Homo sapiens: one gene and its partner. The main gene of each other region encodes a partner of the protein of the gene in region 2 in a complex. Each region holds a gene or a part of one and is shown on either strand. Other genes may lie near its edges. The genes, in order: TIMM17A and TIMM23.

What was found.
Region 1: TIMM23 (region 2) and TIMM17A share a complex: the UniProt entries of both Homo sapiens proteins name them as parts of the TIM23 complex.

The regions. Positions count from the first base shown.
Region 1 is NC_000001.11:201,946,056-201,961,574, reverse strand, and holds the start of TIMM17A (mitochondrial import inner membrane translocase subunit Tim17-A), read right to left. Parts: upstream 6,073-15,519; 5' UTR 6,049-6,072; coding exon 6,023-6,048; intron 4,295-6,022; coding exon 4,195-4,294; intron 4,065-4,194; coding exon 4,001-4,064; intron 1-4,000. Other genes in the region: LMOD1 (leiomodin-1), read left to right, coding at 15,235-15,495. UniProt on the Homo sapiens protein: Essential component of the TIM23 complex, a complex that mediates the translocation of transit peptide-containing proteins across the mitochondrial inner membrane.
Region 2 is NC_000010.11:45,965,351-45,980,531, reverse strand, and holds the start of TIMM23 (mitochondrial import inner membrane translocase subunit Tim23), read right to left. Parts: upstream 8,044-15,181; 5' UTR 7,908-8,043; coding exon 7,802-7,907; intron 5,079-7,801; coding exon 5,020-5,078; intron 1-5,019. UniProt on the Homo sapiens protein: Essential component of the TIM23 complex, a complex that mediates the translocation of transit peptide-containing proteins across the mitochondrial inner membrane.

The DNA of each region.
Region 1 (15,519 bases), on a different chromosome or scaffold from region 2:
TGGCCCTAAATACCATTCTCAACTAAAAGGAACTGGGGCTCTTTGGAGAAATGGCTACAACAGGAAAAGCTGCCCTGCCCACAGCTAGGGCATGAAAAGTACAAGATGAGCCTGAAACGTCTTCTTCCAAAATGCAAGAAAGTGGTCAAAGAGTAACAGGGACATGTCAAAATCCTATCTTATTTTCTCTATGAAAATATAAGACCTGGGCTGGGCCGGATGGCTCACGCCTGTGATCCTAGCACTTTGGGAGGCCAAGACGGGTGGACTGCCTGAGCTCAAGAGTTCGAGACCAGCCTGGGCAACATGGTGAAACCCCATCTCCACTAAAATACAAAAAACTTAGCCAGAAGTGGCGGCATGCGCCTGTAATCCCAGCTACTTGGGAGGCTGAGGATGGACAATCGCTTGAACCGGACAGATGGAAGTTGACGTGAGCCGAGACCGCGCCATTGCACTCTAGCCTGGGCAACAAGAGCGAAATTCCGTTTCAAAAAAAAAAAAAAAAGAAAATATAAGACCTAAGTCCGGGCGTGGTGGCTCATGCCTGTAATCTCAGCACTTTGGGAGGCTGAGGTAGGCGGATCACCTGAGGTAGGGAGTTCAAGACCTGCCTGACCAATATGGTGAAACCTCGTCTTTACTAAAAATACAAAAATTATCCCGGCTGTGGTGGCGCATGCCTATAATCCCAGCTACTCAGGAGGCTGAGGTGGGAGCATCACTTGAACCTGGGAGGCGGAGGTTGCAGTGAGCCAAGACTGTGCCACCACACTCCAGCCTGGGTGACCCTATCTCAAAAAAAAAAAGAAAGAAAATATAACACCTTTCAGAACACAACTATGATTTTCCCATACTGCCTGTCCCTCCCTGCACCTTGATCTGAATACCTTAGCAAATGCTCACCAAATTAATAAAATCATCATCCTAGTATTTTTAGAATTTAAAATACCATAAAAACTTCTCAATAGCTTCCTAAAAAAGGCTAACCTCTAGGATTTGAAATGGATAATTCCAATTCACTCATATCACCACTCACTCTTCCTCTATTTCACCGTGCTTTGTAAGAAAAAATAAACTCTTCCAGTTTTTCCCTATTACCAACATCTACATTAGCATGGAGCATCTGTCACAACTAATGACCCAATATTGACACATTACTATTTTTTTTTTTTGAGACAGAGTCTTGCTCTGTTGCCCAGGCTAGAGTGCAATGGCACAATCTCGGCTCACTACAAACTCTGCCTCCCGGGCTCAAGCGATTCTTCTCCCTCAGTCTCCCGAGTAGCTAGGATTACAGGTGCCTGCCACCACACCCGGCTAATTGGTGTATTTTTAGTAGAGACGGGGGTTTCACCATGTTGGCCAGGATGGTTTCGAACTCTCGACCTTAGGTAATCTACTGCCTCAGCCTCCCGAAGTGCTGGGATTACAGGTGTGAGCCACTGTGCCCGGCCGACACATTACTATTAACTGAAGTCCATACTTAATTCAGATTTCCTTAGTTTGCTAATGTCCTTTTTCTGTTCCACAGTACCACATTACATTTATTTTTATTTATTTATTTATTTATTTTGAGACAGAGTCTCGCTGTCACCCTGGCTGGAGTACAGTGGTGTGATCTGGGCTCACTGCCAAGTTCCGCCTCCCGGGTTCAGCCATTCTTGTGCCTCAGCCTCCCAAGGAGCCGGGACTACAGGCGCCCGTCACCATGCCCGGCTAATTTTTTTTGTTGTTGTTTTTTTTTGTATTTTTAGTATTTTTAGTAGAGATGGGGTTTCACCGTGTTAGCCAGGGTAGTCTCGCTCTCCTCACCTTGTGATCCACCTGCCTCGGCCTCCGAAAGTGCTGGGATTACAGTCGTGAGCCACCGCGCCCGGCCTACATTTAGTTTTTAATTTTATTTATTTATTTATTTTTTGAGACAGCGTCTCACTCTATCACCCAAGCTGGAGTCCAATGGCACAATCTTGGCTCACTGCAACCTCCACCTCCTGGGTTCAAGCGATTCTCCTGCCTCAGCCTCCTGAGTAGCTGGGATTACAGGCACGTGCCACCATGCCCAGCTAATTTTTGTATTTTTAGTAGACATGGGGTTTCACCACGTTGGCCAGGCTGGTCTCAAACTCCTGACCTCGTGATCCACCCGCCTTAGCCTCCCAAAGTGTTGGGATTACAGGCGTGAGCCACTGTGCCCAGCCCTTTTATTTTATTTTTTAGAGACAGAGTCTTGCTCTGTCACCCCGCCTGGAGTACAGTGGTGCAATCTCGGCTCACTGCAAACTCCACCTCCTGGGTTCAAGCGATTCTCCTGCGTCAGCCTCCTGAGTAGCTGGGACTACAGGCATGCACCACCGGGCCCAGCTAATAATTTAGTTGCTATGTCTTCACAGGCTTCTTTTGGCAGTGACAGTTATCTGATGGTATTTTAACTCACTGAAAATGCGTAAGGTGATAGAAGCAGCCTCTCAAAAAACAAGCAAAAACCTATATGGCTTCTGCATATACTAGAGGTTCTGGGTTTGGTGTGAACTTTTTAATACCACTCATCATTCTTGAATAACACAATAACCACCAACACAAAAACAAAGAGAAATTAGTTACTAATTACTTTCCAGGGTAGATAATTCTTACACAGGGAACAAAGGAAAAAGATACAACATTACCTCAACCCTCAGGAACTAAATTTCCTCATCTGGAAAATGGGAGATAATAATAGTACTAACTTCTTCATTACTGTGAGAGTTAAGAAAAGCAAAGAGAAGATTATTTTGATACCCAAAACATCTAAGGAACGACTGAAGTATTAAGATTTTTTCATGTCTTATATACGGTCTCTCCAATCTAACTATACCCTTGTGTTGTTTGTTTTTGTTGCTGTTTGAGACAGGGTCTCTGTCACCCAGGCTGGAGTGCAGTGGTGCAATCTCACTGCAGCCTCAACCTCATGGGTTCAAGTGATCCGTCCATGTCAGCCTCCCTAGTAGCTGGGACCACAGGCACATGCCCCAACACCTGGCTAATTTTTCCATTTTTCTGGGGAAATGGGCAGCCATGCTGCCCAGGCTGGTCTCGAACTCCTGAGCTCAAGCTATCTGCCTAACTCAGCCTCCCAAACTGCTGGGATTATTGGCGTGAGCCATTGCGCCCAACCCTGACTATACCTTTGTAAGTGAATATAACCTACAAACATTTTTTGTCACCTCCCTTTTCCCAGCTTCTGAATAACCAAGTTTACAAAGTACAATGAATAGAATCTTTTCAAATTTTCCAATGACCTCTGCACAATGTCCCAAAACCAACCTTGGAGAAGAGCCCAATCGGCTTGATGGGTTTCTCCTGCATGAAACCCCAATCCTTCAGATCACATTCTCTTCAGCTTTATGTTACCTCAGAAGCTATCGGTCCTGACTCACGAACCTGAGGTTTTTTTTTTTGAGACGGAGTTTCGCTCTTGTTGCCCAGGATGGAGTGCAATGGCATGATCTTGGCTCACTGCAACCTCCGCCTCCCGGGTTCAAGTGATTCTCCTGCCTCAGTCTCCTGAGTAGCTGGGATTACAGGCATGCGCCACCACGCCCAGCTAATTTTGTATTTTTAGTAGAGATGGGGTTTCTCCATGTTGGTCAGGCTGGTCTCAAACTCCTGACCTCAGGTGATCTGCCCACCTCGGCCTCCCAAAGTGCTGGGATTACAGGCGTGAGCCCCGTGCCCGGCCTCACACCTGAGCTTTAAATAACTGTCTTTCTTCTGGAGAAGGAAAAAAAAAAAAAATCACCGAGTGTCTGAAGGACAGAGACAAGATTTTCAAATGGGTATCATAATTCAGGTTAATTTTTCAAACAAACTACAAATCAAGAAGAAACTATAGGGATATATGTTTGTGACAAACCGTTAGACCAAACTAAAATCACTAATTGTTGTAATCTAAAAATAAAAATAGCTCCATCTTCAAAGGAACAGAAAAAAATAGTTCAGTTAAAATGAAAATTCTGCTTACCTCCTAACTGTGGAGCCCTGGTTTTAATAGCTGTCAAACTCCCTCGTAGTCTGTGGTTTACTCCCTATAACAAAAAAAAGGAAGCAACAAAAAATATATTAGAAGTACATTTCTAAGCCACTGATGGGACCACCAGTAATATCATCAAACCCAAGTTGCAAGTGATGATAAAATAAGACCATTCACCCACTTACCACTGGAGAATTGCGAAAACCTTTGATTGCTTGAAAGATACCACCACCAATGGTACCCATCGTAAAGGCCCCACCACAGTCATCCACAATTCGCCATGGGCTAAGAACAGGGGGAAAAAAAAGACCATATTTCTCATTCACAAACCATAAAATCTTCTTTGCCAATACAGTAAGGATTATAATGGAACAGATTATACTGCAGGGCCCACTGCAACCAATAAATATTTGGCCTATAAAATGACTTGAGGAAATGCTGTAATCAAACAGGGCAGTCAAAAAATCAAAGCAGTTTTGACTACAAAGATAACCAGGTAACTGATTATATTGTTTCAGGGCATACGTACTAAGAGAAAGCAAAGGGGCTACCTAATGATTTAGTAAATGAAAACCCATTATTTTTCTAAGTTGTTTTTTTTTTTTTTTTTGAGATGGAGTCTCACTCTGTCACCCAGGCTGGAGTGCAATGGCGCAATCTTGGCTCACTGCAACCTCCGTCTCCTGGGTTCAAGTGATTCTCCTGCCTCAGCCTCCCAAGTAGCTGGGACTACAGGCGCGTGCCACCACGCCCGGCTAATATTTGTATTTTTAGTAGAGACGGGGTTTCACCATACTGGCCAGGCTGGTCTTGAACTCCTGACCTCGTGATCCGCCTCGGCCTTCCAAAGTGCTGGGATTACAGGCGTGAGCCACCACACCCGGCCTTATTTTTCTAAGATCTTTAACTCAACATAGTTAAATATTTTAACTCTCTGCTAACCTGTGTCATTATAGTACATCAAACAGCTATTTACAGTGTGCTGAGTCCTACATATCTGAGCACAATCCAGAATGGAGGATAACTGCTTTGAAGAAGATAAGTTTGAAGAGCCAGGAGACCCTAAAACTTATATTTTGTATGCCATTTATGGGAGAGGGGAACATAAAACATGCAACAAGGCTAGGATACCAGAGTAGTAATTTAAGGTCCTGGGCACTTTCACAAATTGAGGACATCTTGGTTGTTGCTCTTACACAATAAAACAAATGATTAACCGAAATATCAAGATTTGATTTTTTACCTATGACCCTAGAAACTTTAAACTCTGGCAACCTGAGACTTCTGACAGCAATTACATCGTTTTATAATTATCTATGTGTCTGGTTTATTCATACTCAATAAACGCTGGATGTAACAATGAATTTCTGTCCATGGCTTTTCAGAGAACACATGCTATTACCTCTTCCTATTTCCCAGGTAATTTTTGTCCCCCTCTACCCTCAAGAAAGAATTCCAAGAAGGAAAACAAGGCCCCACGCAATAAAGAAGCTTATCCAGACCCCTTGGCTAAAATCTATGTTCCATTCATTTAAAATGCTTCACTCTGTGGACACATATCATGATACAAGTAAAACCTCAAGAATGACACTCCCTCAAATGCCTATTCTTCAGTTCCTCAACGCAGGAACTGAGCAAGGCGAGACGGAGGGACGCGCCCAAGGTCACCTCGACGAACAGGGGGGATTATAACTGGCCCCGCATAAAGTCGATTACGCCCTGCGTTGGGAGGAGGTTCCGAGGTTCTATCAAACTCAAGTCTGGACCTCCTTACCATCCATCACAAGGTCACACGGGTGCTGGGTTGGGAGAGGGAGGCTCACGCGGCCGGGGAGGTACTAAGTACAGGGCTAAGAAGCCGACTGGCCGCGAAAGACCGCATTGCCCAGTTACCAGGCCCAAGTCGACGAGGCTGCGGTTGAGTCTGGCTTGCACCTTGGGAGCCTGGACAAGGGAGAAGGAGGGCAGTGGGCAGGGGGGCAAGAGAAATGCAAAGACAGCGGTGAAGCTCACCAAGGCTCTCGCGCGTACTCCTCCATCTTGACTCCAATGCCGCGAGTGATGCCGGGCAAGCTGGGCGGAGCCTGACCCCAGAGGCGGAAGTGATCCCGAGAGGAGGGCGTTAAGGTCTATGAGCATTGGTTCACCATTTCCCGCTGCAGCCAATGGGAGCCAGGACTCCTGTGGCCAGCGTGTGGTCGGGGCATTGGCCGCGGCGTGGCGAGACTGGCCCTGCCCACGTCCTCAAAGGCCGCGAGTCCCGGCTGTGTGGGCGGGGGGCTACCAATGACGGAGTCACACTACCCGGTCACCAGAGGTTCCGTGGACTGAAATCAACGCGATACTGCCTAAATACGCTTCTTTCTTTCCCTTCCCTTCCGCCTTCCCTTCCCCCTTCCCTTCCCCCTTTCCTTTTCTTCTCTCCTTCCATCCTTTTTCTTTCTTTCTTTTTCTTTTCTTCTTCTTTTTTTTTTTGAGACAGAGTCTGGCTCTGTCGCCCAGGCTGGAGTGCAGCGGCGAGATCTCGGCTCACTGCAACCTCCGCCTCCCGAGTTCAAGCGATTCTCCTGCCTTAGCCTCCTGAGTAGCTGGGACTACAGGCGGGCGCCACCAGGTCCGGCTAATTTTTATGTTTTTTTAGTAGAGACGGGGTTTCGCCATGTTGATCAGGCTGGACTCGAACTCCTGACCTCGTGATCCGCCCACCTCGGCCTCCCAGAGTGCTAGAATTACAGGCGTGAGCCGCCGCACCCGGCCTCTTTCTTTCTCTTCTTTTCTTTTCTTTCCTTTCTCTCTCTTCTTTTTCTTTCTTTCTTTTTTGGTACTTTTGCTGTCAAATGTGGATTAATGCTATCTTATTCGTCACTTACTGTGAAGCTGTTACCAAATACACGTAGCTCCTTTAGGGCAAACAGTGTCTCAGTGATTTATAATAACCACAGTGCCTGGAATGTAGTAGATGCTCAATAAATGTTTGTGAACTGGAACTGTTTGGGCCATCTGGAGAGCCATGACCAATTTGGAGCCCTCGATTTCAGGGACATTGACACCAGAGCCTCTCACAGGCCTCTCCACTAATGATCACCAGAAGGTGTGAAGATGTTTGGCTCGGAGAAGAGGGGACTTATGGGGACCAGGCCGGGCGTGGTGACACGTGCCTGTAGCCCTGACTGTTCGGGAGACTGAGGCGGGAAGATAGCTTGAGCCCAGGAGATCTACCCCGCAGGGAGCTGTGATCATGCCACTGCACTCTAGTGACAGAGTGAGACACTGTCAAAAAAAAAAAAAAAAAAAGGTTGGGACCCATGGAGCTTTTAGTTTACTGTCAACAAAATCCCAATCATGTGATGGCTGTTAAAGTGCTCCTCTCCATTCTGTACGTTTGTAATTAACTTTAAAAATATGTATATATTTATTTTACGGAAAAGTCAATGTCATAAATAATGGAAGAGGCCGGGCGCAGTGGCACACGCCTGTAATCCCAGCACTTTGGGAGGCCGAGGCGGGCGGATCACGAGGTCAGGAGTTCGAGACCAGCCTGACCAACATGGTGAAACCCCGTCTCTACTAAAAATACAAAATTTAGCCTGGCGTGTTGCCTGTAATCCCAGCTAGTCAGGAGGCTGAGGCAGGAGAATGGCTTGAACGTGGGAGGTGGAAGTTGCAGTGAGCTAAGATTGTGCCTGGGTGACAGAGCGAGACTCCACCTCAAATAAATAAATAAATAAAGGAAGACTGCAAAGAGGAGTGAGGGTCTCTCCAAAAGCTTGGAAATAAAGTAAGCAGATGAATCGAACCCTCCATGGAACTAAAGATTATCAATAAATGTGTCTTGCACGTGAGAATGGTTCATACTAGTTATCTGATTTGGGTGTGTAAGGTGGAGAAGACGTGTTCAGAATGTGACTGTAATTAAGAATAGTTAACTCTATTTAATTGTACAGGCCAAAGAGAGAATGTGGGAGAGGGGACATGGAGGAATTCAGAGGGCAGGAATCTGACATTTAGTCAGCACCGAAGACCTGGTGGGTATAAATATTTTAGTAACTAGAGATTTGCACTCTCACCAGGACCCAGATAAAATATCCCTTAGCTCTAGCTCTAGCTACCTCCCTTTGTTCTTATTCCATATTTATTATGCAATCTTCTTCTTCTTATTTGGCTTCTGAATAGATTTCGATATAGAAGAGAATACCCTGGCCTGTGTTTATAACTATTCTTCTCCACTTGGTAGTTAATACTGGCTTATGTATCTGCCTCTTGTGAGATCAGTTATTTTGACTAAATCACCAGGAATAGTCAGGGTTCTCCAGAGAAACAGAACCAAGAGGATATATATATACACACACATATATATATCTTATTGTGTGCAAATATATATATATCCTTCTGTTTCTGTTTCTCTCTCTCTCTCTCTCTCTCTATATATATATATATATATATACATAAAATTAATATTTATTTATTTATTTTTGAGATGGAGTCTCACTCTGTTGCCCAGGCTGGAGTGCAGTGACGTGATCTCGGCTCACTGCAACCTCTGCCTCCCAGGTTCAAGTGATTCTTCTGCCTCAGCCTCCCGAGTAGCTGGGACTACAGGTGTGCGCCACCACACCTGGCTAATTTTTGTATTTTTAGTAGAGATGGGGGTTTCACCATATTGGCCAGGCTGGTCTCAAACTCCTGACCTCGTGATCTGCCCACCTGGGCCTCCCAAAGTGCTGGGATTACAGGCATGAGCCACCACACCCAGCCTATTTATTTATTTATTATGAGTAGTTGGCTCACATGATTATGGAGGTTGAGAAGTCCAATAATCTGTGTCTGCAAGCTGGAGATGGAGGAAAGTCAGTGATGCAGTTTGGTCCAAGTCCAAAGGCCTGAGAGCCAGGGGTGCTGATGATGTAAATCCCAGTTTGAGGGCAGGAGAAGGTGAAATGAGATATCCCAGCTCAATAGTGAGGCAGGAAAAGAGGGGCAAATTCTTTCTTCGGCCTTTTCAATGCCCAGCCACACTGAGGAGGGCAATCTACTTTGCCGAGTCTACCAATTCAAATGCTATTCTCATCTGGAAACATCCTCATGGACACACCCAGAACAACATTTAATCTGGGCACCCTATGGCCTACTCAAGTTGACACATCAAATTAACCATCACAGTGATAATGAGTTTCGGAGTTTACAAAGCTGAAGTCCAGTTTCTAGGTTGTGGTTCCCCAGCTCATTTAATTCCAACAGTCCCTATCCTAAAGGAGTTTACTGCTCTGGGAAGCTCCGCTCAAGTGGCCAAAGAAACTTTAAGGAAAGAGACTTCTTACTCTTTGCTCTCTTTTAATTGCAACAGATAACAGAACATTTTTGGCTGGGCAAGGCCCAGGAGAAAGATGTCACGTCTTCTCAAAAATATTCACTTCCATTTGGTTCCAGGGTGCTAAGTGAAGAAATCTTTTGAAAAGGGTTCAAAAGAAGCCTTTTGAAAGGTTTAGAAGGATTGGTACTCTAATCTCCCCCTAGTTAGTCTTAAAGAATTCTGAGGGACTGTGGTGGCCCTCACTGATGGAATGGTCAATGATACGAAGGCATAGTAGAAGAAAGCAGTGGAGGTCCTTGAGAGAAAAGTCACCATAAAGGTGAAGGGCGTTTGAACTTCTGATTCAACATACCAGTGTATATTCTATTGAAAGTTACTGTTCTGGGCTCAAGATAGGACTGCTGCTAGAGCCCCATGTGGTCCAGGTACTCAGTAGATCAAGCTTCATTGAGCCAGAGGCTGCTGTGGCCTAAGGAACTCCATCCACTAAGTCACAGGTCATGTACATGGCACCAAACCCACAGTCCCACCTGGTCCATGTCATGGAGAAATTCAGATTGGCGTGGATAAGTAAGCCTCCTGTTGGGTTTGGGTTTTAGTTTGTGACCAGGGCTGATTTGGTAGACAGAGGGGTTTTAGCTTAGGTAACATTGGTGGAGGTGAAGGAGGCAATCTCTTGTCTCTTTGCTGCCCCCTTTTTCCTCCCACTGCTCTCCTCTCAGGAAGACATTAGTCTGGCCTGTGCTCTGTCTTGAGCTCTCCTCTGCCCATTTCTGCTCATCTCAGGAGTGCTGGGCCAGGCCAGTGGCTTGCTCCCAGAGGCAAAGTCTGCTGCCTTCTAGGGGAACTGTCAGCATCCCCCAAAAGGAAAGAACCAGTGTGAAAACTTCTCTCTTTTGTGGTCTCTTTCAGGACCCTGCCATAGTCATTCTATGTCAGCATATCTCCTGATCTTTGCATGTATATACACATACATATAGCTATATAATTTAACTATATAGCAAGCATCAGTGAGTGCTTAAAATATGTCCGATGCTGTTAAGTACTTTGCATGCATTATCTTATTTAATATGCTCAATAATTCCATAACTATGAATTAGGGTTTTTTTAAATTTTAGATTATTTTATTTTCGTTATTATTTTTTGAGACAGTCTCACTGTGTCACAAGCTGGAGTGCAGTGGGATGATCTTGGTTCACTGCAACCTTTGCCTCCCAGCTTCAGGTGATTCTTGTGCCTCGGCCTCCCAAGTAGCTGGAATTACAGGTGTGTGCCACCACACCCGGCTAGTTTTTGTGGGGTTTTGCAATGTCGGCCAGGCTGGTTTCAAAATCCTGGCCTCAAGTGATCAGCCCACCTTGGCCTCCCAAAGTGTTGGGATTACAGATGTGAGCCACTGTGCCTGGACAAGGTTTTTTTTTTAAGAGATGGGGTCTCACTCTGTTGCCTGGGATCATCTTGACTCCTGGCCTCAAACATTCATCCCACCTCCTCGGCCTCCCAAAATGTGGGGATTACAAGCATAAGCCATCATGCCCGGTCTGGTTTTTTGTTGTTGTTTTGTTTTGTTTTGTTTTGTTTTGTTTTGTTTTAGAGACGAGTCTCACATTTTCCCTAGGCTGGACTCAAACTCCTGGGCTTAAGCAACCCTCCCGCCTCAGCACCCCAAGTAGTTGGGACTACAGGCACACATCACTGCACCCAGCTCGTAGATGCTCTTAATATCCTCATTTTCCATTGCCTAAGGCTCAGAGAGGTTAAATAACTTACTTAAGGTCACACATCTCAGATTTGAGCCCATGTCATTTGACTCCAGAGCCTGTAGTCTTATCTGCTATACTATACTGCCACCCTATATTCCTGAAAATGTGACTTTCCTGGGGTCATTCAGCCCAACTGAGAGCCACCTAAGCATTAATTAAATTGGTTCTGGATCCTCATTCTTCCCTCCTGCCCTGCACCACATTTTGATTGGAGCTTTGAGTCTCTTTTCCTTCTTTTCTCTCCCCATCCCTCTAGCGACAACAGTGCTTGTTTTTCTCTGGGGAATAGACAACGGCCAGGGTCCTGATACCCAGGATGGATTTGTTTCAGGTGGAAGTTGATTCTGAGCTGGAACAACCAGTGCTCCCTACAGAGTGGGTCGGGCAGTGGCCTCTCATTGTAGGGGCTGGAGGTGGCTGTACTCCCTGGCCTCTGGGTTCCCAAATCCTCCAGCTCCAGCTGTGATGCCTTTCAAGGGAAGACTTTTGGAGTCTGTGAGCAGTGTCAGGGAGCTCTTGGGGCTCCAGGGAGTAAAAAGCTTCTGACTGAGTCATGTCAGAAGAACCAGCGATTTGGAATTGGGAGACCTGACACAGAGAAGATACTGGGGTTAATGTGTAGAAACCTTTGGTTAGGAGGCATGAGTCCTGCCCTTTACATTTGAAAGCTATGGATTTATTTTTTTGAGTGTCTTCCTGGAGCAGAGACCACTGGGCCCAAAAAAGAAAACCACTGAAACCAGATGGTACAGGGCTAACCCTGGGGCTGAAGGTAGTGATTTGCTTTTAGGCCCTGACTGCTCCTCAGGGAGCAGTGAATATTTTTGGCAAAAAGCCTGAGAAAGAGTCCTTGGAAACTAGAAAGAGAATTGCTTTCAGCTGACTGGGAGGCTAGAGGTTGGCTGAGGTCCTAGAGCCAGGGACCCCAGAAGATGATGCTTTTTTCTGGGCAACACTGAGGGTGAAGGCCAGCTGACCCAAAGGGGGTACAGGGGGAGGGGATGGGCATAGGGAGTGCCATGTCCACCCAACATACCTAACTAAAAGCCCACTCCAGCATGGCTGAAACCCTTTGTTATGCCCTCTGAGATGACCACCCTGACTCCTCCCCACAAAATTAATGTGTCTTCCACTGGGTTTTTTAACAGTTGGACCTCTCTGCAAGACTCCTTGTACCTCTCTAGCTTGCTTCACTTTGCCTTACAGTGTAGTTATTATTATTTTTTACCCCATTGAATTATACATGTTTAAGAGAATAACAATGTTGTAATGACAATGTTGTAGTGCCTGGCAGGATGCTATATATAAATAGTAGTATCTGAATAAATGTTTGAATGAATGAATGAGAACCAGGTGAGAAAGTGTGTGTGTGTGTGTGTGTGTGTGTGTGTGTGTTTAGAGGGTGTTTACTCTTGAGAGAAAGAAATAAAAAGATGAGAGAAAAGGTGGGATGGGAAGAAAAGAACCCAGGACAAGAGTAAATAAATAATTATAGCCAGGCGCTGTGGCTCACGCCTGTAATCCCAGCACTTTGGGAGACCGAGGCAGGTGGATCACCTGAGGTCAGGAGTTCAAGACCAGCCTGACCAACATGGAGAAACCCCATGTCTACTAAAAATACAAAATTAGCCGGGCATGGTGGCTCATGCCTGTAATCCCAGCTACTTGGGAGGGTGAGACAGGAGAATTGCTTGAACCCGGGAGGCGGAGGTTGCAGTGAGCCGAGATCGCGCCATTGCACTCCAGCCTGGGCAATAAGAGTGAAACAGAGTTTCCCAATAAATAAATAAATAAATAATTATAATAATTAATAATAAATATGGTGTTTACCATGTACTGGGTATATCAATGAAATGTTGTCATGTGTAGGACCTAATTTAATATTCACAACAATTGTATAAGGTTGGTATAACTGTTGTCCTTATTTTACAGATGATGAACTCAAGTCTCAGAAAAGAAGGTAGCTTGCCCAAGTCACATGGCCTGTAAGTAGCAATACCAGGACCAAATACAGGTCTATTGGCCTCAAAGGCCCAAGCTCTTCACTGTTAAATCATACTTCTATTCAGCCTCCTCTTGTTGTGTTTTCCCATAGCCCCTGTGCTTGCTCGCTCTTTCTTTCTTTCTTTCTTTCTTTCTTTCTTTCTTTTTTGAGATGGGGTCTTACTCTGTTGCCCAGGCTGGAGTACAGTAGCGTGATCACAGCTCACTGCAGCCTCAACCTTCTGGTCTCAAGCAATCCTCCCACCTCAACCCCCTGAGTAGCTGGGACAACAGATGCTCACCACCACATCAGGCTAATTTTGTTTTTTTTTTTTTTTTGGAGAGATGGGGGTCTCATTATGTTGCCCAGCCTGTTCTTGAACTCCTGGACTCAAGCAATCCTCTTGCCTTGGCCTCCCAAAGTGCTGGGATTACAGACATGAGCCACTGCACCTGGCCTGATTTTGTATCTTTAGTGATATCTCTTGCTCTTAGAACAATGCCTGATATATAATAGGCACTTGATAAATCACTCAATAAATATATACCTACGGTTTGACCAATAAGTTGGCTACTGACTCTTAAAATGACAACCCCCAGGTTTCCCTAAAGTCTTCTTCCACTCTTCCTATCAAGTCTGCCTGCCTTCCTTCTGCCCTTCAGTCCCCCCAGTGGACACCATTCCCCTCTTCAGCCTTAACCTAAAGTTGGACTAGTGGACATTAAATGGCACGGCCAAGTTTTAGTCCCAGACGATCCCTGGACTCAGCAAATGCTGATCAAGTGACTGTCTCTCTCTGGCTTAGGATGGAAAGATGCCAGGAAAGATCGAAGCATCTACCCTGATGGGTTACACCAGGGCTTCTAGAAGGGATTTTGTGGCAGGAGGAAGGGGGGCAGGGGATTGAATGTCTCTGTGACTTGTGCAGGGCAGCATGATGGATGAGCAGTGGAAAGCCCTTCTATGAAACATGCCAGACCTGTTGCAATCGTATCTCTCCCGACGGCCCAGAATTCTGTTTCCCTGAAGACATACTAAATCGTGCTCTGGATTTATATGTGGGTGGTGACCTGCCTCTGTGCTCCCAAAGGAGGTCTGTCTACAGATGCCCGGCAGAGGAAGAAACAGATGACAACAGGGGGAGGTTTGAACCCTCTTCCCAAGAGCCTTGGAACTTCATGGAAAGTGACAGCCCTTTAAGAGTTTCCCGACTTCTGCAGATCCTTCTCTCTTTCCCAAACAGCCTGCCAGTTTTCAGTTTTGGTACACAGTAAGGATTTATTCTCTCTCTCTCTCTCTCTCTCTCTCTCTCTCTCTCTCTCTCTCCCTCTCCTGCCTAGCTATCTCTATCTCTAAGTTTGTCTTTCTGTCTCCTGTCTCTCTCTTAAGAAGTGGCCAAAGGATCCTGGAGCCTCTGATGCTCAGCCTTCAGGTCCTCCTTGGCAGAACCTGGGTAGAAAGAAAATGGGTAGGCAGGGGGTTAGGAGTAACAGCTCCTCATCTTGAATCTAGACTTTCCTGGAGCTGTATACACCTGGGAGCCCCCCAGCACATTACCAAATACTGTAGAAGGAAGTCCATGAACCACACATTGACCACAGTGATACGTCCACCCGGTGATGGAGTAGTAAAATACGCTCTTGAACGTGCCCCGGGCTGGCGAGTTCACCGGCCCTCATGGCCTCGTCCCTGCTTGTCTGGCTCTCCGTGGCTGTGATCTGCTTCTGCCAGCCTACGCATTTTTGTATCTTTTTCTCATTGCGTGGCCCCTTGTCTTTAAAAGGCTAAACTGCTCTGTACTAAATTTGGTCACGCAGCGCTCCAAGATTCCCTGGAATGTCCTCAAGTTTCAAACAGCTCTGACAGCGAGGTAGGCCCGCCCCCAGCTTGGGGATTGGCTTCTCCTCTCCGGGCCTGGCAGTTGTCGGGTCTTATTGGCCGCTGATTAGACCAGCCGGGGTCCACTAGCCCTGGGCTTCAGGGAGGCTGCTGCGTCCAGTGAACACTTCAGCACCTGTAGCACAGAAGGGCCAAGGAGCTGCAGTCCTCGACCAGCAGGAGGTTTGCTCCTCAGCCCACTCGCTGCATCCAGATCAGCTCACCCCTCTCCCTTCCCTGCCCACCAGGACTCTGATAGCCCCTGGCAGCCACAGCCCATTTTGCCAAGATGTCTAGAGTAGCCAAATATCGCCGGCAGGTGAGTGAAGACCCCGACATCGACAGCCTGCTGGAGACCCTGTCTCCCGAGGAGATGGAGGAGCTGGAGAAGGAGCTGGACGTGGTGGACCCAGACGGGAGTGTTCCCGTGGGGCTGCGGCAGAGAAACCAGACGGAGAAACAGTCCACGGGTGTGTACAACCGGGAGGCCATGCTCAACTTCTGTGAAAAGGAGACCAAGAAACTTATGCAGAGGGAGATGTCCATGGATGTGAGTGAGCACAGCCCTGGAGGG
Region 2 (15,181 bases):
GATGTTCACCTGGGCTAACAAAAAAATTTATTACTTGACACAATTTAAAAAAAAAAATCAATAAGGATACAAGAGTAGTGACAATACAAAAGCATTAGTAAGAGAAACTACAATACTGTATCAGATAAAAGTTGGCTAGGCACAGTAGCTCACGCTTGTAATCCCAGCACTTTGGGAGGCCAAGGTGGGAGGACTGCTTGAACCCAGGAGTTCCAGACCAGCCTGGACAACACAGTGAGACCCTGTGTCTACTATTAAACAAGAAAAAAAAAAAGTTGTTGCCAAAGTCACGACATGGTGAGTTGACAGGTACTATTTTCTTTAAGATGTCTCTAACCTTCAAAAGTATAAATAAAAGTTTTACAAAATGTAATTTCTATTATCTTTAAATTTAAGGTCTCCAGAATTATTTCCAATAACAGATGAGGTTTATAAAACACTTTTTAAAGTCTGAAGTCCCTCTAGAATTCCAATGGAAGATTAAATGTTCATGATGAAGAATGAATTCACAAGTTTTTGGGGGGATATGAAATATTTTATGTCTAACCTTAATAAGCCCCACCTAGCAATGCAGGGCCACAATGATATTGAATTTTAACTAGATCTAGAGTACAACCTCTAAGTGTAGATTCAACATTAAAGCAAAATACATGCAGCTAGTTTTGAAATTTTGAGTAAACTGACAAAGGAGTACTTTTAAAGTAAAAAAATCAATGAACACCCAATGTTAAAATATAACATTTGAAAAACATTTCAAAAATAATGAAGCTTTAAATTGGCAAGGTCCGAACCATCAACTTGCTTCAATTTGAACACTTAACGCAAACAAGAAATGCAGCAGCTGTCAGATGCCGTTAGTGATTCAACTGTGAAATAAAAGGTTCCAACCATAATGCTTAAAAAAAAAAAAAAAAAAAAAAAAAAAGGCCAGGCATGGTGGCTCATGCCTGTAATTCCAGCACTTTGGGAGGCCAAGGCAGAAGGACCACTTGAGGCCAGGAGTTAAGAGACCAGCCTGGGCAACCAAGTCAGATCACATCTCTACAAAGAATGTAAAAAAAAAAAGAATTAGCCAGGCATGGTGGTGTTCATCTGCAGCCCTAGCTATCTGGGAGGATGAGGCAGAAGGACCGCTTGAGCCTAGGAGTTTGAGGTTACAGTGAGCTATGATGCTGCTACTGCAACTCCAGTCTGGGAGACTTTGTCTCTTAGAAAAAAAAGAGAGAGAGAAAATGGAGTTACTGATCTGTATCTCATGTATCACACAATCCACTTACTTAGAGCGTACAATTCAGTGGTTTTTAGTATATTCAGAGTCGTGCAACCAAGACTACAATAAATTTTAAAGCATCTTCATCACCCCCCAAAAAAATCACATACCCATTAGCAGTCACTGCCCATTTACTCCTAACCCTTGGCAGCTACTAATCTACTTTCTTGTCCATATATTTGCCTATTCTGGACATTCCATATAAATGGAACCACACAATATGTGGTCTCTTGTGACTGGTTTCTTTCATTTAGGAAGTTTTAAAGGTTCATTTATATTGTAGCACAATTTAATAATTCTTTTTTTATTACCAAATAATATTCCATTGTATGGATATGCCACACTTTTTTATCCATTCATCAGTGGATAAACATTTGGTTTGTTTCCATTTTTTGGTTATTATGAATAATGCTACTAGCAACATTCATTTACAACTTATGTGCACAGAGGTTTTCAATTCTCTTGAGTATGGAGTATACGCAAGTGAAATTGCCAGTCATAAGGTAACTCTATTTTTAACACTTTGAGAAACTGCCAGACTGTTTCTAAAAGCAGCTGTATCATTTTACATTCCCACCAGCAATGTACAGAGGTCCAATTTCTCTACATCCTCAACAATACTCATTATTTTCTTTTTGATTATAGTGATCCCCGTGGGTGTAAAGAGGTATCTCATTGTGGTTTTATTTCTCTAATTAATGTTACTGACCAGCTTTCATGTCATTATTAGACATCTGTATATCTTCATAGAGAAATGTCTACTCAAATCCTTTGCCCATTTTGTAATTATTTTTTATTAATGTTTCAAGAGTTAAAAAAATTAAATATTCTAGATATAAATTCCTTATCAGATACATAATATGCAAATATTTTCTCTCAGTCTGTGGATTGTCTTTTCCCAATTTTTTTCCTTTTGAGACAAAGTCTCTCTCTGTCACCCAGGCTGGAGTTAAGTGGTTTGATTATGCTGAGACTTGACCTGCTGGACTCAAGTGATCCTCCCACCTCAGCCTCCCTAGTAGCTGGGACTACAGGTGCACACCACCACACCCGGCTAATTTTTGTATTTTTTTGGAGAGATGGGATCTTCTTATGTTGGCCAGGCAGGTCTCAAACTCCTGGGCTCAAGTGATCCTCCCGCCTCAGCCTCTTAAAAGTGTTGGGAGTATAGGCACGAGCCACTGCGCCAGGACTTTTTCCATTCTTTATTTATTTTTTTATTTTTTTTTTGAGACCGAGTCTTACTCTGTTGCCCAGGCTGAAGTGCGGGTGGCGCGATCTTGGCTCACCGCAACCTCTGCCTCCCAGGTTCAAGTGATTCTCCTGCCTCAGCCTCCCAAGTAGCTGGGATTACAGGCGCCCAGCACCACGCCTGGCTAATTTTTGTTTTTTAGTAGAGATGGGGTTTCACCATGTTGGCCAGGCTGGTCTCGAACTCCTGACCTCAGGTGATCTACCCACCTCAGCCTCCCAAAGTGCTGGGATTACAGGTATGAGCCACTGCACCTGGCCTCCATTCTTGTTGGTATTGTCTAAACCACAAAATTTTTAAATTCTGATTAAATACAATTTATCAACTTTCTTTTTACCACTTGTGCTTTTGGTGTCACATCCAAGAAATCACAGTCTAATCCAAAGTCACAACTACTTGTGCCCATGATTTCTTCTAAGAGTTTGACTGCTTTAGTTTACATTTAAGTCTTTAATCCATTTGGTGGTAACATTTTGCATATGGTGCAGGGTTAGGGTTCAACTTCATTCTTATGCATATGGATTCCAGTTGTCCTAACGTCTCCCCTGACTTAACTATCTTGGCATCCTTGCTGAAAAGCAAGTGACTGCATATATTGTAAGGTCTTTCTTCTGGACTCTGTATTTCATTAACTATGGATTTATTCTTATGTTACTATCATGATGTGGCTCTGTAGAAAGTTTTGAAATTGGCAAGTTCAAGTCCTCCAATCTATTTTCTCAAGGTCATTGGCCATTCTATGTCCCCTGAATTTCCATATGAATTTTAGGATAAAAGCTTGTCAATTTCTGCAAAAAAGCCAGCTGGGATTTTGACAGGCACTGCACTAAATCTGTTGGTTAATTTGGTGAGCACTGCCATTTTAATATTAAAATTTTCAGGATCATAGCATGTGTCTTTCCACTTAATTTCAATAATGTTTTATAGTTTTCAGAATATGTTTTGCACCTGGTCCATTTATTTCTAAGTATTTGCTTTTTGATGTTATTGGTAATCAACTGTTTTTTGTAATTTCATTTTTGTAGTGTTCATTGCAACTGTCTAGAAATATATTTGATTTATGTATATTGAACTTGTATTCTGCAACTTGCTGAACTCGATCATTAGTTTTAACAGATTTTTGTGATTTCCCTTGTGATTTTCTATAGATAAGATCATGTCATTTGTAAACAGATAGTTTAACTTCTTTCTCAACTTGAATGCCATTTAACGTACTTGACTAATTGCCCTGGCCAGACAATGCTGAATATAAATGAGAGTAAATATACTTATTTTGTTCCTGATCTTAGGGAGAAGGCATTCAGTCTTTCACCATTAAATTATGTTAGCTTTGGATATTCTGTAGATGGCATTTAACAGGCTGAAGTCCCTTTTATGTCTAGTTTTATTTATTTATTTAGAGATAGGGTCTTACTCTGTTGCCCAGGCTGGAGTGTAGTGGGGTGTTCTCAGCTCACTGCAACCTTTGTCTCCAGGGTTCAAGCGATTCTCGTGCCTCAGCCTCTCAAGCAGCTGGGATTACAGGTAGGCACCACCACGCCTGGCTAATTTTTGTATTTTTAGTAGAAACAGCGTTTTGCTATGTTGGCCAGGCTGGTCTCAAACTCCTGGCCTCAAGTGATCTGCCCACCTCAGCTTCCCAGAGTGCTGGGATTACAGGTGTGAATCACTGCGCCCAGCCTAGTTTGTTTTTATAATCATTAAAGGGGGTGTTGGATGTTGTCAAATGATTTTTGTGAATCTATTGAGATAAGCATGTGGTCTTTGTACTATATTCTTTCCTTGATTGCTTTATTATAAATTGATATGGCACAATACATTAATTTTCAGATGTTAAATCAACCTTGCTTTTCTAATATACCCAAGATATATTTCCTAATATATCTTGGATTCAAAAAGATACTCTTTGAAACTTTTGATGCTTAGTCAAAAAAACCCTGATATTGTAAACTGAGCTTTAAAACACACTTTGCCTGTAATCCCAGCACTTTGGGAGCCTGGCCAACATGGTGAAACCCCGTCTCTATTGAAAACACAAGAATTAGCCAGGCGTGGTGGTGGGCGCCTGTAGTCCCAGCTACTTGGGAGGCTGAGGCAGGAGGATGGCCTGAATTTGGGAGGCTGAGGTTGCAGTGAGCAGAGATCGCGCTACTGCACTCCAGCCTGGAGGACAAAAGCAAAACTCTGGCTCAAAAACAAACAAACAAACAAACAAAAAACCCCACACACTTTGTAACTAGGCATCCCAATACTTTTATTGGGGTGCTTTCAAAAATTAATTCTGCTCTGGTTTTAAAAAATAAGCTTTTGAAGGGAGTTAACTGGTTTCAGAGAGATGCAGGCCAAGCTCCTGGTGTTTGTGAGGAAAAAAGGGTGAATGGAGACCAGAGACTTACTGCCTCCAAAAGTGTATGTCATAGTTCAAGTCAGCATAGCACTTGGCGTTTTTTTTAAAATGGTAAAATAATGCACCAAACTAGTAAAATCTTAATCTTACCTGCACGAGGTATCGTGGATCCACATTTAAATAAGGAGACAGAGGGTTCATACCAGTTACTAGAGAGAAAACAAAATGTCACATTGCAACAAAATTCTTTAAGTTAATCCAGTTAGAGTTAATCCAGCTCCTGACTGTTACATGTGTTTGCAATTTTTATAGGCTCACTGAAGGCGGAAAATTTTTTCCCATTTTATCCTCCCTATCTGTCAGTTTGGGGGCTGACTCATCCTGAGACCCTCAATCCCAAACCAGGTCTTCCACTGGTGGCTCAGGCTTTTACACCAATAAGATAATTGCAGTGTCATAGATCTGATTTTTGAACTTACAGGAAGTGTAGTCCAGGCCATTTACAAAGCTAATTTCTTTCACTTTACTCCAAGAATGCTTGGTGACTATGTAAATTACAAAATAAGACTGAAAAAAGACTAATCAATTCCATGGGAAAAACAGTGGTTGGGTTGGGTTTTCTGACTGTGTACATGTTGTATCTAACTATTTCAAGGCAGTTCCTTCACATATTACTATTAACGATTGATTTACTGTGGCAAGGTTGAGAATCCTTGGGTCATTACCACAGGTATGTGGGTCTGTGCAAAAGAAAACACAAACTTTGAGAGGGCCAGACCTGAATTCACTAACATTGAAAACAGTAAAACCTATCATCTTTGGATCCTTCTGTATCTCAGCAGTTATTTACAAACCTATGCATCACCCATGCCTCTATCTTTTCATCAATTAGGAGTCCTGCTTGTTCTATTTTTAATATCTATTTTGAATTGTGTTACTTATCTTCTCTATTGCTACCATCCTAGTCCAACCATCATATCTCACAGCAACAATTTCCTAACTCCTTGCTTTCTCTTACCCCTTCAATTCACTGTCTACATAGCAACTACAGTGATTTGTCTTAAGAAAATCGAAACTCCTTACCATAACTTACAAAATCCTACATTAGCTGTCATTCCCTACCTCTCTGATTTCACAAACTTCAATGGATCCAACTCCCTTGTAACTACGAAGACAGACTGGCCTAAGAGCTGTTCCTTAAACCTGCCAAATTTGTTTTGTTTCAGGACATTTGCACTAGCTATTTTCCTGGATACTTGCCTCCCAAGCATTTGTACTGTATTTGGGTCACAGCTCAAATGTCAACTCCCTTGAGATGTTTTCCCTAACCGGCTCTAAAATGGCATCCTGCTTCCATCACAATCTCAAGACTCTGCTTTATTCCCTTTACAGCACTTATCACTAACGGCAATGTTTTAATTTATGTTTGTTGGTTTACCTCAGTATTATGTAAGCTCTGTGAGCGCAAGAGTCCTCTTTTCAAAAAAAAACAAAAAAAACCCCCACAAAAACCACTATAGTCCTGCCCCCAGAAAAGTAGCTAGCACACTGTAAAAGCTCAGTAAATGGTGTTCATTCCCTGGTCCCCCAATTTACCTTCAAATCTTAATCAAATTAATTTAACAATATTGTCACATTAAGGAAGTGTATATGCCCTTTGTGCTCTGAAACTCAGAGATACTAAGATTAATATGAAACTGTGTTCTAAACAGGTAAAGTAGTAGCTCAGGCCTAGGAATCCCAGCATTTTGGGAGGCCGAGACAGGAGGATGGCCTGAGTTCGAGAGTTTGAGACCAGCTTGGACAACACAGGGAGACCCCATCTCCACAATAAGTCAAAAAAAAAAAAAAATTAGCCAGGCGTGGTGGTACGTACCTAGAGTCCCAGCTACTTAGGAGGCTTAGAGGGGAGGATTGTTTGAGCTCAGGAGTGCGAGGCTTCAGTGAACTATAATCATGCCACCGCACCCCAATATGGGTGACAGAACGAGGTCCTGACTCTAAAAACAAACAAACAAAAAAACGAAACAAAACACCATGTGTTGTAGATTCAGTTTTTTGACAAAGGTGACACCAGGGAAATGAAAGGTCTTTTATATTTTTTTGCACTACAGTCTGAACATATTTCGTTGTTGTTGTTCCTTAGTATAAAATACCTAGAGAAATATTACAAGGATTCTCTAAAAAGAAAGTACTTTCGTAAAGGCTTTATCCACGACCAACTGCCTATCTTTAGGTCCAAGTTGTATTTATCTAGTTGAACAACCACAGTTACAAAGTACCAAAGTTCTGGAAAACATTTTCACAAGACCGAGGAGAGGCAAAGGCAAGATATTTATGCCTCTGTATACCTTGATGTTGCCTATTTCCGTTTCTATAATTCTTACCTGGCTTCTTTCTTCATGTCTATATATCACCTTTAAAGTTCAGCTTACTTCCTAGCTCCTAAAGAAGGTTTCCTAGCCTGTCCCAAGTCATTTATTTCTCACTTACAAACAATATTACTGAATATTCTGCCCTGACGGCTACTTGGAGGCTCAGAATATGTCGCTGTGTACTAAAAAGTTAACTACGGGCTTGCTATTTGGAATACATTTACTCCCAAAGCTCGGCTCTACTCTTAATCAAGGGTCAATCACACGGCCCACCACACACAAAACGTAGGAGGCTTGGATATAAACCTAAGAAAACATGCATCATCTCGCGAGTCCAGGTCAATCACGGACAGCTTCCCCAGGAGATCCGTGGCCCTTTTTTAGGCCTTTCTATCTTGAAAGAGCAGCCATGCAGATACACTAACCCCACCACTGGTACTTAAGCTTGTAAATGCCAGCAAGGAAAAAAAAAACAACAACATAAAACATGGGACGCGCAACTTAGTGTAGACGCAAAAACCAGTCAGAAATAATCGCAAGCTAGGCCCCATACTTACGCGGGACGCCAGCCAAATCCGCGTGCGAGTAACCTGCTCCGCCGGCTCCGAAAAAGCCGGCCAATCCCCCTGTGGTTTTGTTGCCGCTTCCCCCGCCTCCTTCCATGGTATCGCAGCAAACCGAGTGGTTCCCGCCGCTGCCTCAAGCCTGGGTGGTCCGCTGGGCCGTTACTCCTCAATAACAGCGGGTAACCCCGCGTTGCCAGCGCCTACTTCACACGCTGACCTTCCGGGCGCCGGTTCCCGTTAAGCGCCACACTTCCGCTTTGCGGCAATGTGCGCCCCGGAAGCTGGAAGCGCCTGACGGCAGCTTTCCGGTGGTGGGAAAGTGAACGAATCCCGAATCAAAGCGGCGCATTGAGGCAGGTGGGGTGCCAGTGGAAGAGAGAAAGCAGGCGAGTGTTTACGGCCTGACTTGGGAGGCCGGCGGATCAGCAATTGCAGAAGCAGGCAGCGGCAGAGAGGGAATGGTGCAGGCAGGCGCTGAGAAGGACGCGCAGTCCATCTCTCTCAGGTTAGTGAAATGAGGCTCTCCGCCCGGGGCCGGCCCGGGGACAGTGCGCTGCTGGTCCCAGCATGAATGCGGGCCCCGGCTGTGAACCCTGCACCAAGCGACCCCGCTGGGGCGCCGCTACAACTTCGCCGGCTGCTTCGGACGCCCGGAGCTTTCCGAGCAGGCAGAGGCGCGTCCTCGACCCCAAGGACGCTCACGTGCAGTTCAGGGTCCCACCGTCCTCGCCAGCCTGCGTCCCAGGGCAGGCGGGACAGCACAGAGGCAGCGCCACCTCGCTTGGTACGTGGGAAAATAAAAATCTTTGTCCTTCGCCTCGGCCCGAACCTTCTGGTCTCAGGGACTCCAGTCACTCCTTTCTGGTCTTGTGTGCATCATCACTCTGAGGTCCACTTGCTGAGCTACCAAAGCCACTAGTGGGTGAATGGGGCCGCATTTTTCCCAGTGCGATTGATGTGAGAAACTCTGATGAGCAGTCACTCACAGGGCGGAAAATGGCAGGAGACTCCACCACCTGTTTGCTTCTTCAGGTTTGATTGAGAAATTGCCTTAGTCGTCAAGGAGATCTAATTGTGTATGTAAAACAGTAGGGCGCTTCAGCCTCTAGATAGGAAGAAAACAACTTCACTTGTGCAGATTCTGGGTCCCAGGGTGCAGAGCTATTAGTCTAAGCTGGCATTGTACCCGTCCCTGGTATACAGTGTTGAATGAGAGAAACTTGGCCTCTGCCTTCATACCTTAAAATCTATCTGGAGAGATAGACGATAGCAAAAGTTAATATAATAAAAGGTAATGGATGTTCTGATAGATGAAAGACAGATTGTTTTACCTAACTGAATTTATGGAATCGAAAATAGTCCTCCAGAAGATGAGATGCTTATTCTGAGGACTGTAGAATGAGTAGGAGTTAGATGAAGAGGAAGTAAGAAGTGTTTCAGGAGTGCAATGGAGGCCGGGCGCGGTGGTTTTGCCTGTAATCCCTGCGCTTTGGAAGGCCGGGGCGGGTGGATCACCTGAGGTCAGGAGCTCAAGACCAGCCTTACCAATATGGTGAAACCCCGTCTCTGCTAAAAACACAAAAAATTAGCCTAGCGTGGTGGCGGGCAACTGTAATCCCAGCTACTCCGGAGGCTGAGGCAGGTGAGGCAGGAGAATCACTGGCATCCGGGAGGCGGAGGTTGCAGTGAGCCGAGAGGGCACCATTGCACTCCAGCCTGGGCAACAAGAGCGAAACTCCGCCTCAAACAAAACAAAACAAAACAAAACAAAAACAGGAGTGCAATTGATATATAGAGTGAACGCAAGAGAGTGTGAGAGATGAGGCTGCAGGGTGGTACAGAAAAGTCAGATCAAATTGGATATGTAGACATTGCTAAGGATTTTGAACTCTAAGGGCATTGATAAGCTACTCAAGGGTTTTTAGTAGGGGAGTGACTTGATTAGACTTATTTATTTGTTGAAAAGTCTGTGTGGCTGGTGTGTGGAAAATAAAGAATGGATTGAAAAGGAACTCAAGTGGAGCATCAAGACTCAGTTAAGGAGTTAATCTAGGTTGGAAATAATTGTAGCTTAGGCCTGGATGCTGGCAATAGGGAAGGGGATGGATTCATGAAAGAATGGGATACTTGAGAAGAAATATTTCTGTGCTGGAGAAGTAGATTGGGGAGTTCATGGCATAAACATTATAATGGATGCTATGGGCATAGATAACATAAACATGTAGAGAAAGTAAAGGTGACCTAGGGCAGAAGCCTTAGGAACACCAAAGTTTAAGAGTAGACTGAAGAGAAGCGGCTGTAGAGGTGGGAGGAAAGCCTGGCTCGTGTTGTGTCAGACAAAGGAGAGCATTTCAAAAAGGATGCATTCATTAACAGTGTAAGAGGCTGGGCAGAGCTCGGGCAGTTCTCTGGTGAAGAGTGTACACTTAGATGTCTTCGAACTTAGGGACAGTACCAAGTAGACTTGCACTAGGCCTTGAAGGATGAGGAAGATTTGCTGTATAAATCAAGAGGAGAAAGAATTATACACGCAGAGGGAATAAGACATGCAAAAGTTGGTAAGACTGGAGCATAAGATGACAGAGGAGTGTCTGATGAGGCTGGGTGGCAGACAGGAGCTTATGAAGAAACTCAAATTCCATTTTAAGGAATTTCAACCTTATTCTGTGGTTAATGGAGAAACCACTAAAAAGCTTTTAAGCGTGGGAATACCATTTGGTTAATATTTTAGAAAAGTGGCTTTTGGACTTTCCTAACTGCAACCCACAGCATAAATTTTATCCAGTACACAGAGTAAGAAATATATGTAACCTGGCAAATAAGCCATATTTATAACTGAAATAAATGTTTCATGAAATAATACTTAATCTTTCTATGTGTGATGCATTCTTATATTGTCTGTGTTATTTCATTGAAAAATGACTGGTCATTTGTAGTTTGTAGAACACTGGATAGTCAAGGCTGTAGACAGGGAGACTAGTTGCAAGAAACAAATGGCAGTTGTCTAGTAAGCGATGTGTTTAAAGAGTATGAGGAAGGGATGGATTTAAAATTTAGGATGTAGATTTCAGAGAACTTGGTATAGGGGAGAGGGAACTGAAGGTGAACTTCAGGTATATGTTCAGGTGTACTTCAGCTTCTGTGACTGGATAGTTTGTGGTTTCATTAACCTTATTTGCATGTAAAGGAGGAGGAGTTAGTTGCAAATAGGGGTGAGGGCAGTCAGTCCTCACTGGTTGGATCTTAATTAAGATTTCTGCAGAAGAGGTACCAAATGAATACTTGGGGCTGTATTTCGCATGTTTAAATGTTTTCTGTATACCTGGCACAGGACACCAATTAACAGAATGTTCAAAGACTATATTTGTATCAAAAGCCCATTGTTTGAATTTTTGGGATTCCTTTAGGAACTTGGTATTTAAATTTTTATATATAATTATCTTAGGACAAGTAGGCGGGGTAGCGAAATGGATATTTATTCAGTATCTTTAAATTTTATATTCTTTATCTTCCTGGACATATTTCTTGTATTGACTGAAATCGCTAATTTTGCTGGGCATGCACCTGTAGTCCCAGCTACTTGGGAGGCTAAGGCAAGAGGATCACTTGAGCCCGGGAGTTCCCGTCCAGCCTGAGCAACATAGCGAGACCCCACTTCTGAAAAAAGAAAAAAAAAATCTGCAAACCTGCATATTGGCAGAACTCAGCATGTTATTCACATTGTGATGACGCAGGTTTATCCAGATGTGTTGCTATAGACTTTTTGTGAAAGTGGAATGTTCCTTTGACATGCAGGTGAATTTTATTGCATTTTGTGCCTTTTGGCTGTATCTATAGCTATTAATTGAATGACTTGCTGATTAAAATATACTGGGTACTGAATAATGTTGCTGATGAGAGTAAATGTAAATGGTGTGAAGTCAAAGTTGGAGAATTATTGATCTCAGTGGAAAAAAAAAAGACTGGGTGGAAATGTCGAGAGATAACATATTGAGTGCTTTGTGAGGCTGAACACAATATTTTCTCTAATTTTTGCTTTGTAATTGATCCACATAACCCTTAGAAGTAGGTGTTGTTAGCTTCATTTTCTGGGTGAGGAAATAAAGGCTTAACGAAGTGATATTGCAAAGAGCAGTAAGCAGTCCTTTCTCTGAGGCCCTAAGAAGGACTGATCAATGTTTTATTAGCAGAAGATACTGGTTCCTTACCTCTTGCTTTTCCTCCTTCATCCCTTCCCCAGGCTTCAGGAAGCCTGAAACTGGAGAGAGAACACATTCTCAGGGTCAGGGCTACGGGAGAGAGCTCTCTTCTTCTTTGCCATCACTGGAACACTCCTGGTTTTTCATGAAATGATGTGTGCGGTCTTTAGGTTCTTTAGACTTATCACGGGAGTACATGCTTCGTGTGTGTTATAGGAACCTAGTCATTGCATCTTAACATTAATCCTTACATTTATGGAAAAAAGATGTTTTAACTTCTAAACCAACTCAAAAAATGAATGTTTTGGCATATTACTGGTTTGTAATTTGAGGATTTTTTTTTTAGTTTTTGAGACGGAGTCTCACACTGTCGCCCAGGCTGGAGTGCAGTGGCGCGATCTCCGCTCACTGCAAGCTCCACCTCCCGGGTTCACGCCATTCTCCTGCCTCAGCCTCCCGAGTAGCTGGGACTACAGGCGCCCGCCACCACGTCTGGCTAATTTTTTGTATCTTTAGTAGAGACGGGGTTTCACCGTGTTAGCCAATCTCCTGACCTTGTGATCTGCCTGCCTCGGCCTCCCAAAGTGTTGGGATTACAGGCGTAAGCCACTGTGCCCGGCCCAATTTGAGGATTTTCTAAACTATACTTGCTGTATTTGATATAAAGAAAATAAATAGAGAATACAGAACTGTAGAAAAAATTTCAGAATCAAATGGTTTATCCTCTTACTCCCTCTGACTGAAGCTCATTTTTTCTCTGAAGCCTGATCTGCTGCAGAAATGCTAAATAAAATCGTGGAAGTAATGGTGTTTAACAATAAGAAATCACTATGCGTGATTACTTTTTTGTGATAGAAACTATTTTTGAAACATTAATCAAAGATTTTTACTAGCTGGATTATAAGTATTTTGTGGAAGGTAAAGATTATATAGCAATTGAATATTTTTCTGGTATAAAATTCTCCCCATCTGAAATGTATTTCGATTATGCCATTATTTCAATGAAAAATAAACCATTGATTTTCGTATATTTGGCCTGCATCTGTTTTGCTCCATATGGTGTTTGAGGAGAGGTAGGTAAATAAGAAAGATCCTGTGACTTAGGATGCTAAGATTCTTACATTGCAATTTAGTGAGTATCTCAAATCTTAAACATTTGCGAATGTTTAAGATTTTATTTCTGATACTAAAATATGATGTACATTTAATCCCTATTCAGTATGTTAAATTTTGACAGCATACTTATTTCTAATGATTATATAAAATGTGGCTTGTATTTATTTATATTTAATCTCCCTCTCCTGAGCTATCAATTCTACTTTTGCTACTGTCTGCTGGTGTGTTGGGAAGGAAACCTTAGGAAGCCAGAAGTAGTGATATGGTTTTCTATCTAGTTACTTCTTTGGCATCTCAAATTTAGTATAGGCAGAATTGACCTAATCGTATTTCTTCCCTAAACACAATTCTCTTGTATTCCATATTTCTACTTAAGGCTGTCATCACTTTTCAAGTCTCTCAAGCTCAAAGCTTAAAGTCACTTTTAACTTCCCCTATTATTGTGAAGTCTGTAATGACTCTCCTCACTTTTACTACTCTCACAAGGACTAGTTTATGTTCTTGGCAAGTAACTGTTCAATCTAGTGGATCATCAGAATCACTTTTGGAAAAAAAAAAAATAGATTCCAGCTCCCCTCATGCCTTCATCCTACTCACATATAGATTCTGATTCAGAAGGACTGGGGTGTGGCTGGCTTCCTGATGATCCAGATAGTTTGGGAACCACTGACCTGGACTAGTAGCTTCCTCCCTAGTTTCTGGCAATACGCTCTTCCCTCTTGCCCCTCAAATTTATCCTCCAGGCTGTCATGCATGACTGTGAGCCTCCTAGATGAGAGGAATCATGTCTTTCAACACGTTTTTTGTGCTTCTCTTTGTGGGTCATTCAAGATCCTATTGTATGGTATGATCCTGGCTGACTTTTCAACCCTATTTTCTTTTGCTTTCTTTTTAAGTTCTTTATATTTCCCTGATATTGGTGCCTTTGCTTATAATTTTCTCTTTATGTGACTGCATGTTTACTTTTCAAGGCATAAGTCAAGCCTTACCTTTTCCGAAGAAATCTTACCGATTATGCCCATGTTCTCCTGTTCACTGAAGTAGTGTCTTCCTCAGAAATAACCTTAATTCCTTTATCAGGACCTCTTTTAATAATCATGATAATTAAGAATCAACATTTACTAAGCGTAAACCAGATAATGCCCTAAATGCGTTACATGAACTATTTTTACTTAATTAAGCCTTATCTCATGAGAGATAGTTATTTTGCATGTTTACAAATGAGGGATCTGAGATACAGAGAAATGACCCCTCACAGAGTAACATAGGAAGCTAATGGGAGAATCAGGATTTGAATGCAGATGTTCTGATTCCATAGCCTATGCTCTTATCCATTAGGCCATACCAACTCTTTTAGGCACCAGTCATTTTCTACCCTGTGTCATATGTATTAACATTTATGTTCCTGTCTTACCCATATACTTGAGGGCAAATACTTGAGTTATTAATCTTTTGTTTAACCCGTAGAACCTAGCATAGTTCCTTGCATGTACAATATGCTGTATATGTTTTCTATTGGAAGGAATGTATGAATATACATTTTTTTTATAGTTTTCAAACAAAAAACTATTACCAGTTGGATGGACACTGAAGGAATCAAGACAGCGGAATCAGACAGGTATAGAAACATTCCTATGTAGAGAAATGAATAATAATACATGGATGTTTTATCTTGTTGCTTTAATATTTTCTCTCTTTGTTCATGCTTTTCTGTTCTCCTTTATCTATGTTAATTCAAAATCAACTTATAAGTAATTTTTTAGAGAGTCCTGTGTGCCAGGGACTGTCCTGTATACTTGAGATACCGAGATGAGAGAGGAATAGTCCGTGTCTTTTTTTTTTTTTTTTTTGAGATGGAGTCTCACTCTGTTGCCCAGGCTGGAGTGTAGTGGCGTGATCTTGGCTAACTGCAAGCTCTGCCTCCTGGGTTCACGCCATTCTCCTGCCTCAGCCTCCCAAGTAGCTGGGACTACAGGCGCCCACCACCACGCCTGGCTAATTTTTTGTATTTTTAGTAGAGATGGGGTTTCACCGGGTTAGCCAGGATGGTCTCGAT